Linked DNA regions of Homo sapiens: region 2 is linked to region 1. The links come from fine-mapping of genetic effects on gene expression. Tissue or cell type: whole blood. Region 1 holds a variant in brackets; the other region holds the start of a gene. All regions are shown on one strand. Distances are from middle to middle. Region 1 has its middle 29 kb from the start of ZNF684. Region 2 holds the start of ZFP69 (ZFP69 zinc finger protein).

The links. PIP is the estimated chance that this variant, and not a neighbour inherited with it, causes the effect. A credible set is the group of variants that fine-mapping cannot tell apart.
Region 2: it holds the start of ZFP69, and the variant in region 1 is the best candidate, but not a certain one, in a credible set for the expression of ZFP69 in whole blood (Lepik 2017, PIP 0.55).

What each region holds. Positions count from the first base shown.
Region 1 is chr1:40,557,623-40,562,999 of GRCh38, forward strand. It overlaps the pseudogene LOC100328982. Among named protein-coding and RNA genes, the nearest start is that of ZNF684, 29 kb to the left of the region's middle. The variant C/T (reference allele first, on the strand shown) is at 2,741.
Region 2 is chr1:40,475,266-40,480,642 of GRCh38, forward strand. It overlaps ZFP69 (ZFP69 zinc finger protein), which reads left to right and starts at 2,025. Exons shown (of 6, transcript NM_001320179.2): 1 at 2,025-2,629; 2 at 3,771-4,223. The coding sequence starts at 4,097. RefSeq lists a silencer at 1,764-2,233.

The DNA of each region.
Region 1 (5,377 bases):
CAGTGAGTGTGACAGCTCTTAAGGCAGCGCGTCCGGAGTTGTTCATTCCTCCTGTTGGAGTCGGCGTCTCGCTAACCTCAGGAGAGAAGCAGCAGACCTTCGTGGTGAGTGTTACAGCTCATAAAGGCACTGTGGAGCCAAAGAGTGTGCAGCAGCAAGATTTATTGCAAACAGCAAAAGAACAAAGCATCCACAAGGTGGAATGGAATGCCAGTGAGCTGCCACTGCTGGCTCTGGCAGCCTGCTTTTATTCCCTTATCTGGCCCCACCCACATCCTGCTGATTGGTCCATTTTATAGAGAGCTGATTGGTCTGTTTTACAGAGAGCTGATTGGTCCATTTTGACAGGGTCTGTTTTGATTGGTCTGTTTTACAGAGAGCTGATTGATGCATTTACAATCCCTGAGCTAGACACAAAAGTTCTCCAAGTTCCCACTAGATTAGCTAGACACAGAGCACTGATTGGTGTGTTTACAAACCTTGAGCTAGACACAGGGTGCTGACTGGTGTGTTTACAAACCTTGAGCTAGACACAGAGTGCTGATTGGTGTATTTACAATTCCTTAGCTAGACATAAAGGTTCTCCAAGTCCCCACCAGATTAGCTAGACACAGAGCACTGATTGGTGCATTTACAAACCTTAAGCTAGACACAGGGTGCTGATTGGTGTGTTTACAAACCTTGAGCTAGACACAGAGTGCTGACTGGTGTATTTACAATCCCTTAGCTAGACATAAAGGTTCTCCAAGTCCCCACCAGATTAGCTAGACACAGGGCACTGATTGGTGCGTTTACAAACCTTGAGCTAGATACAGGGTGCTGATTGGTGTGTTTACATACCTTGAGCTAGACTCAGAGTGCTGATTGGTGTGTTTACAAACCTTGAGCTAGACTCAGAGTGCTGAGTGGTGTATTTACAATCCCTTAGCTGGACATAAAGGTTCTCCAAGTCCCCACCAGATTAGCTAGATACAGAGTGCTGATTGGTGCATTTACAAACCTTAAGCTACACACAGAGTGCTGATTGGTGTATTTGCAATCCTTTAGCTAGACATAAAGGTTCTCCAAGTCCCCACTAGATTAGCTAGACACAAAGCACTGTTTGGTGCATTTACAAACCTTAAGCTAGACACAGGGTGCTGATTGGTGTGTATACAGCCCTCCAGCTAGACATAAAAGTTCTCCAAGTCCCCACTAGACTCAGGAGCCCAACTGGCTTCACCTAGTGGATCCGCCCGCCAGTCCCGTGCCCTGTGCCCGCACTCCTCAGCCCCTGGGTGGTGGATGGGACCAGGCACAGCAGAGCAGACGGTGGCGCTCATCGGGGATGCTCCGGCCGTGCAGGAGCCCACTGCGGGGGGGAGGCTCGGGCATGGCGGGCTGCAGGTCCCCAGCCCTGCCCCGCGGGGAGGCAGCTGAGGCCCAGCGAGAATTCGAGCTCAGCGCTGGCGGGTCAGCACTGCTGGGGGACCTCCGCAGCTGCTGGCCTGGGTGCTAAGCCCCGCACTGCCTGGGGCCAGCGGCGCCCAGCCGGCCGCTTGGAGTGTGGGGCCCGCAGAGCCCACGCCCACCCGGAACTCGCGCTGGCCTGCCAGCGCGGCACGCAGCCCCGGTTCCCGCCCGCGCCTCTCTGTCCACACCTCCCCACAAGCCGAGGAAGCCGGCTCCAGCCTAGGCCAGCCCAGAGAGGGGTTCCCACAGTGCAGCGGTGGGCTCACTCTGTCACCCAGGCTGGAGTGCAGTGGTACGATCTCGGCTCACTGCAACCTCTGCCTCCTGGGTTCAAGCGATTCTCCTGCCTCAACCTCCTGAGTAGCTGAGATTACAGGCCCGTGCCACCACACCTGGCTAATTTTTGTATTTTTAGTAGAGATGGGGTTTCAACATGTTGGCCAGGCTGGTCTCTCCTGACCTCAGGGTGATCAGCCCACCTTGGCCTCCCAAAGTGCTGGGATTACAGGCATGAGCCACCTTGCGCAGCCCAAATCATACAGTTTGAAATGAAACTTTGCTACAACCAGCTTTTGCTGTAGCACACACATACACCACTGAACCTGTTTGAAATACAGTTTTTTTCTTTTTCATGATTCATCTTTGAGTAGCTCCAGGCTGAAGGACTGAGGTACCAGTAAAAACTTAAAGGCACAAATTCTCCTTGAAGACCGTCTCCCTTTTCTTTGTCCTCATATTTTATGTTGCTTTATCTTTGAAATTTTTCATGAAAAGGAAATTAGTGGGTTCAAATGAAATTGTCCTTTAGAGCATGAGTACTTGTTCCCATGGACAAATCTTTTTCTCCCCTTGCTCTTCCTGGCCTGAAACACAGGAAACCAGAGTCAGAAGTTATCTCCCTCTCCCTGTGATGCCTTGAGATTTTTTCTGCATTGTTTTATGCCTGAAATCCAATAGTCTTCCTCCATTAGAAAATACTGTTATACCAAATAATTCTAGATGAATAACAAAGATCTTTGTAGGCCTTCATTTTATGTTTTTTTCTTAACTGTTTTATTATCATGACACAGATTGTAATATTACGAATTTTTGGACGTTTCAAAAGGTCAAGAAGAAAAAGATGTTGGAAAGCAATGAGTGAGTCCTTTTGATTTTTAACTTATTCCCCATGTCCCTATACTTACTTCCTGTGCTTTATCTTTTTTTTTTTTTTTTTTTTTTTTTTTTTTTGAGATGGAGGCTCGCTCTGTCACCTAGGCTAGAGTAAAGTGGCACGATCTGGGCTCAC[C/T]GCAACCTCTGCCTCCTTGGTTCAAGCGATTCTCCTGCCTCAGCCTCCCGAGTAGCTGAGATTACAGGCACGTGCCACCACACCCAGCTAATACTTATATTTTTAATAGAGATGGGGTTTCACCATGTTGGCCAGGCTGGTCTCAAACTCCTGACCTCAGGTGATCTGCCCGCCTTGGCCTCCCAAAGTGCTGGGATTACAGGCGTGAGCCACTGTGCCCGGCTTATTTTTCTTTATGTTTTTGCTTCATAAGAGGTTCTGTTAAGCAGTGATTCCCAACTCTCGCTGACATTAGAGTTGCTGGGGAAGCTTTAACAAAAAAATGCCCCAGAGAGATTCTGATTTGATTGGCTTGGAGTAGAATTCAGGCACTGATATCTTTAAAAACTCTCCCCAGTGTTGAGAAACAAATTTAGAGAGTTGAGAAGTAGTATGTTAAATTACAGAATCGTACTGAGTTTTCGTAGTCTGATAATACAATTTGCTTTGCTTTTCTTAAATTTGCATTGAGATGGGATTTGAAGCATATTGTGCTCTTTTGAATGTTGAAGTTGCATTGTAGAAGTTTAGAAGCTCTGGCTATGGGTTATCTAAGTTGATGTTTTGAGGAGGCATATTAATGTTATATACTTGGCTGACTTTTAAGGTTGTGTTGTAGCATGAGGAACACAAATAAAACAATTGTAAATAAAAAAAAATTTGAAGTGCCTGTGGGACATCCAATTAAAGAAGTCTAGATGGTAGGTAGTAGATATCAAGGTCTGAGAGAGATCCCGGGTAAAGGTACAAATTTATGAGTTGTCACCATAGATTGGTCATTAAAGCCATGGACTTGGTTGATACGTAAGAAGAGAAGAAAAAGAAACAGAGAAGAACCTTGAGGAACACAAATATTTAAGAAATGGGCATAAAAAGAGGAGATTATATTGCAGAAAGGCAACATGGTATATAGACCAACTAGGAGGAGAGGTGAGAGATCACAGTGGCTCAGAAAAAAGTGGTGGCAGCAGAGATACTTATTTATTTATTTATTTAGCGACAAGGTCTCTCTCTGTCACCCAGGCTGGAACACAGTGGTGCAATCATGGCTCACTGCAGCCTCGTCCTCCTGGGCTCAAGTGATCTTCCTATCTCGGCCTCTTGAGTAGTTGGGACTACAGGTGCATGCCACCACACCCAGCTATTTTTTTTTCTTTCTTTTTCTTTTGAGATGGATTTTTCACTCTTGTTGCACAGGCTGGAGTGCAATGGCGCAATCTCAGCTCACTGCAACCTCCGCCTCCTGGGTTCAAGTGATTCTCCTGCCTCAGCCTCCCAAGTAGCTGGCATACACCACCACAGCCAGATAATTTTGTATTTCTAGTAGAGATGGGGTTTCTCCATGTTGGTCAGGCTGGTCTCGAACTCCCGTCCTCAGGTGATCTGCTTGCCTCGGCCTCCCAAAGTGCTGGGATTACAGGCATGAGCCACCACGCCTGGCCTTATTTTTTTTCTTTTTGGTAAAGATGGAGTCTCCCTATATTGCCCAGGCTGGTCTTGAACTCCTGGGCTCAAATGATCTTCCCACTTGGGCCTCTCATGGTGTTGGGATTACAGGCGTCAGCCACCACACCCAGCAAAGAGATATTTAGATTTAGTGATGGAGCAGATGTGAGGGAGGAGGGAGAAAAAGAAATCAAGGATGACTCATATTTTTCTGACTTAAACATTTTGGTGGTTGGAGGTATGATTTCCTGAACTCAATTTCCTGATCATTTCCTAAACATGAAAGAAAAGCAGGAGATAAAGTTGGAATTTAGCATGTTAATTTAGATGCCTTTGAGACATCCAAGTAGGTGTTTGTTTCATTGGGTAGATATTTATTGATTACCTATTCTAAGTCAGGCACTGTGTTTCAAACTGGATATTCATCTGGCACGTACTTGGGTCTGTAACTGTCTGGCTTGAGGTCTCAGCTGCAAGTGTACATTTGAGTTGTCAGCATTCAAATGGCATTTGAAGCTATACGAATAGATGACATCACATAGGAGGAGTAAGTAGAGTAAGAAGAGGGCTTAGGTTCCAACCTGGGGAACCCCAACATTGATGAGTAAAGGAGATTGAGAGTGATCAGAGAGGTAAGAGAAAAACCAGGTTACTATGAGAGGAAACCAGGTTACTATGAGAGGAAAGAGTTTTGAGGAAGACTGTGTAGTCAACAGGGCCAAATAATGTCAAGAAATCAAGTATAAAAAGGATTGAAAACTTTCCATTGGATTTAGTGGCAAGGAAGTCATTAGTTATCTTAATGAAGATGAATTTCTGAAATTGGAATTGCTGGGTCAAAAGATGTTTAATAAATATTGCCAAATTGCTCCCCAAAAAAAGTTTATAACAATTGATACTCCTTCCAACGGCATATGAGGGTATCTGTTTCCTCATACCCTCACTAATGAATATTATAAGTCTTAATCTTTGCCCAATGGGTTGAGAGAAATAATGTCTCATTGTTATCTGAATGTACATTTCTTTTTCTTTTTTTTTTTTGAGATGGAGTATTGCTCTTGTCGCCCAGGCTGGAGTGCAATGGCGCGATCTTGGCTCACTGCAACCTCTGCCTCCCGCCTTCAAGCAATTCTCCTGCCTCAGCCTCCCGAG
Region 2 (5,377 bases), 82 kb before region 1:
TCTTTTATTTATCCCACTAGAGAGTTATATGGCATCTTATATCTGTGACCTGGTTCCTTTCATAGGTACTAAAAATATTCAGCCCTTATTTCTTCAAATACTGTCTCTGCCCTAGCTTTATCTCTCGTTAAACTTAGTTCGATCCTCTTACTGTATTCTCTATCTCTCTTACTCTGTCTTCTGTAGGGTACATTTTTTGTTTCTCAATGCTTTATTCTAGATAATTTCTTGTGACCTACCTTCCTTTCAATTTATTCTACATTCAGCAGTGTCTAATCTGCCATTAACTGAGTTCTTAATTTAGTTACTGTATTTCTCAATCATAGAAGAGAAGTCTATTTACTTCTTTTTTTAAATCTGCTCTATCACTTTGTATAGTTTTTAGGTACCTGCCAAAATTGTCCAAGTTATCTTTTTTATTTCTTCAGGCAAAGAAAATATGATTTTATTTTACTTTTTTTCCTAAAAACTCTAATAGGTAAGCAAGAAAATATACATATGTTTTAAGCCAGGGTCTTGCTCTGTCACCCAGGCTGAAGGGCAGTGGTATGATCGTGACTTACTGCAGCATCAACCTGCTGGGCTCAAGCGATCCTCCCATCTCAGCCTCTTGAAGAGCTGGGACTTCAGGGCTGTGCCACCATACCTGGCTAATTTTTGATATTTTGTAGAGACAGGGTTTTGCCATGTTGCCCAGGCTGGTCTTGAACTCCCGAGCTCAAGCAATCCACCTGCCTTGGCCTCCCAAAGTGCTGGGATTATAGACATAAACCACTGTGTCCAGCCCAAGAAAATATTATTTTGCGGTTTGCATCAAATAATTCTAAAAGCAGTTGTTTCTGCAGGTCTATTTCCAATGTTTGTGTTTCTGCTGGTTCTCACTAAGAATCTAGTTTCTTTGTGTACCTGGTTATCTTTAATTCTGTATTTGACATTGTCTATGAAAACTTATGTGTAGGAAAAATGTCGGCCCTACAATTATAAGGCTTTCCTCCACCTATTTGCTTTTGCCAAGCATCTGGTGACACCATAGTCAGAGACAGTCTTAAACCAAGATAATGTCTGAGACAGGCAATTTGATGCAGTCTGTAAATTCCTTTTAAGCTGTTCCATTTTCAATTCATCCTCACCCTGAGGCTGTTGCCCTTTGGGGTCCCAGTTATTGTAAGGAGGGTCTTCTTCTTCTTCTTCTTTTTTTTTTTTTTTTGAGATGGAGTTTTGCTCTTGTCGCTCAGGCATGGAGAAACCCCATCTCTACTAAAAATACAAAATTACAGGCATGGTGATGCGTGCCTGTAATCCCAGCTACTCTGGAGGCTGAGGCAGGAGAATCACTTGAACCCGGGAGGCAGAGGTTGCGGTGAGCCAACATCGCGCCACTGCACTCCAGCTTGGGCAACAAGAGCGAAACTCCGTCTCAAAAACAAATTTATATATTATATATATATGTATATATATATACACATACACACACACACACACACACACGTATTCCAGAATTTTATTTTTAAATTTTATTGTTGTTTTCTACAGTGGGTTGATACAAATATCCTAGCCCATCATCTCCCCACCCTGCTTTCCTTTTCTTCATGGTCCTCACAATCGCCTGGGGTATTATCTATTTATTTTTCTATTTGTTATTGTCAATTAATTTCAATGTAATTAAGTTCCAAGAAAGCAGGAACTGCGTTTTGTTAACTGCTGTATACGCAGGGCCAATAAGAATGTGGGGGTAGATCTTACACACTCAGAATAGATAACTGAATGAATGAATGAATGAATGAGTGAATGAATGAATGACAGGGAAGGCGCTTCACCGGAAAGGCTGAAGGAGGTCTCCCAAGGACCGCTGTGAGGAAACGGGGGGCGGCGTGGGTGGGTGGCCGCTACCCACGGTTCCGGACGGCCCTCGGGGGCGCGCTCGGGCGGCTTCCAGCTTCCGGGTTCGAGGGCGCGCGCTGCTTCCCGGGAGAGGGCGGGCTCCGTGGCAGCCCCCTGTGGGCGGAGCCGGCGGCCGGGGCTCACAACCCGCCGGAAGACGCGCGGGTTGTGGCAGCTGCAGCGGGACCGCGTGGGGTGGGCCCCGGGACCGCCAGGGCTGCAGCGAGAGCGGCCGGCGGTGCAAGCGGCCGGGAGGGCGCGGCCGGAGGCAGAGGCCAGGCGAGACACCCGGCTGCGGCCTAAGAGGCCAGGCTGGGTGGGCTTGGCTGCAGCCGCCAGCCCCGTGTTAAAGCGGCAGCCAGGGAGGTGTATCCTCCCCGGGGTCTGCAAGACGCCGGCTCAGGGCATCCCTCCCATTCCGGCCCTCAAAGCCTCGCTCCTGGGGGCGCTGCTGGGAAAGCCCACCCGCCTGGGCGGGCCCTTGATGGGAATGTGGAGCAGACCCTCGTCCACTCCGGAGGCCGAGGGTCCTCCGGGCTTCCGAAGGAAGCCGACCTCAACGCTGGACGCTTCTTGGAGAATGATTGCGTTGAGTGGAGATGTGGTCTGTCTATAAAAGGCCGGGAGGGAACAATATCTGTTACCACTCAGTCCGTCTCTAAAGAGACACTCTTTACCGCTGAAAACCTCAAGAGTGAGCACTCCCACGCCCCCGTCTCTGGTCCTACCTGGGTCCAAGGCCGATGTGGTGAGTAGGAGTCTGTGTGCAGTCTTTGAGTCCGAGGGTGGCATGTCTGGGAGCACTGTGAGGGTGGGGCATCTTCGATATGAAGCTTCTCAGCCATTAACTGTTTCCCGAGTAAGATTCGAAAATTCGTGCACTTTGGTAACAAGACTTTTTATGTATTCAGGGGTGGGATATTTCTCACAAGCTCCAATTCCTAGAACACACGCAGCTCCTGTCTCTGCATATAGTCACACACACACACACACACACACACACGCCTATAAGTCACATACCCATCCTTCTCCAACAAACTTCAAAAAGTTGGGCCAGCTCCCTTCCCACGTAGCTCCGACTGTTCTTGGAGTGCCGTATACTTTGGACCTGGTCACGGTCAAAGCACCTGCTCAGATTCTAGGGTTTGGTTGAGATGATGGATTTGAGTTGTTTCCAAATTTGCCTATTACTATTCTGCAGTAGTCCTCATTATACTAAATTTACACCATTTGAAGACATACCCTCTTCCCCAATTTTAACATTTCTGAAACCAAGATGCATCTTCCCAGTGTGGTTCCAAGGAACTTGCCAGCTGCTGGGCATCTGCGTGGGTGGTGACGTGGCTGTCACTGCTTGTTCATGCCAAAATGCAGCTATGTCATTATTCTGTCAGTTGAGATATTTTGAACTTTAAATTCAGATTTAATGGTTTCTAAAAATAACTTTAAAAATTAATACTATGATTCAGCAATATGATAACAGGTTTATAACAATGTTCATTAAGGGTTTACTGTATGCCTAGCATTGTCTCAACCAACATTACAACTCTATAGAATACAATTATTATCTCCATTTTATAGATTAAGAAACTGAAGCTGAGAGTTGAAGTGTCATAGAGCTTTTAAGTGCAAGTGTCAGGTTTCTAAGCCAGGCTGTCTGATTTCAAAGCCTGCCCTCTTAAACCCCGTCTGTGTCCAGGCAGAAGATGCATGCAGCTTACAAGGAGGGAAGATGAGGCATGGTCTGTGCATGTTTGTACATCTTTGCATGTTTGTGTATGTATGTATAGAACTGGAGATAGAGCCACGTCCAGGAACATGTATTATATTTATTCCTGCATGGATATTTTTCTTTTGGGTATTTTGCAGTTTTAAATATATTTCTGCAGATTCTGGAGTTCTGGAGACAAGTGCTTCTGGATCCCTCTTCCCTTCCCTTTTGCTCCTCTAAAGAGTATGGAGACATGAACTCAAACCTAACTAACTGGCTGCCTCCCAAAGAAAGTGCTTGATTTAAAGGGGAGTTTGTTTTCCAGAATTGTTAAAGTCACATCAGTCTCTAGGAACCCCCAGGTCCTGGTGCTGCAGGGACACACCAGAGTCCTGAGGGCAGGTGATTGGAATCTGAGCAACACCCCACAACTGTGAAGCGTCTCATCAAGAGCTTCTGGCAATTTCCTCACCAGAAGTGGACAAGTCCAGTAAGGCAGGCATCATGCCACAGCAGCTCCTGATCACCCTGCCTACCGAGGCCAGCACCTGGGTGAAGCTGCAACATCCAAAGAAGGCCGTGGAGGGGGCGCCCCTGTGGGAGGATGTGACTAAAATGTTTGAAGGAGAAGGTGAGAATGGACTGATGGAGGGGGAAGAAGGGGATCTCATTTGTGTGTGAAAAGATAGGTACACACTTCATTGAAGTGGAGAGAAGGAGGGAGAGAAGGTCTCTGGGGGTTCATTCTTGTGGTTTTTGGGAAGGGGACAGCTGTGAGGGAAAATCTTGGGGTCCAGCATGGACTCCTTGTGACACGTGCTTGCAGCTGCTCTCATCTCCCATCTTCAAATACTACATGTAGCAGGAAGACAGAATACAAGGTGTTCCCCACCAGTGGTGCCTGAGTGTGGGAATGTGATTCACAGACAGGTCTAAGATTTCTGCCCTCCTTAAGTCCTCTAAGGGTTTTCCTGCACAGGTTCCAGTCATTTTAGCCCCAACCCAATATTTATCACAAGTATCAGTTTTTTCTTTTCATCTGCTGAGAGGCAGGAATGACATGCCAGATTACTCTCATGTTACCTTGAACTGTGGGAGAGATGCCCAACAATCACACCTTATTTAGTGGTCTGGTTAGGAGTAAATAGAAGGATGGAGGAAGTCATGTGTCTCATGTGGTGTTTTAATTCATACCTTTAATGCTTTACACTCAGCCAGTATTTATTGTTCTAGCTGTGTCAGGCAGGGACTTTGGCTAAACATCTTAAAAGATGGAAAAATGAATAATTATCTCTAATTCTGATTACCAATGGATTGAGATAGGCATACACCTCAATCAAAATAATAGAAAGCAGCCTAAGAAAAGTTATTTTGGAACACAAGCGACGGAAAACTTTGTTCTGGTTGTGATTTTTTTTTTTTTTTGGTGATGGAGTCTCGCTGTGTCGCCCAGGCTGGAGTGCAGTGGTGCAATCTCAGCTCACTGCAACTCCTGCCTCCCAGGTTCAAGCGATTCTCCTGCCTCAGCCTCCTGAGCAGCTGGGACTACAGGTGCCTGCCACCACGCCTGGCTAATTTTTGCATTGCTTTTTACATATTTGATAGCAGTTTTTTTTTTATTGGTTACAAAACCTAAGCCCATATACAGAATTAGGAACACAGTTAGATGCCTCTTTTGAAAGAACATTTTAGTCTTTTTAAACTGAGTTAAAAAAAAAAAACCATGCAATTTTCAAACACTGTTTTGAAAACTTAAAAGTGCAGCAATATACTTAGTTTCCTTTA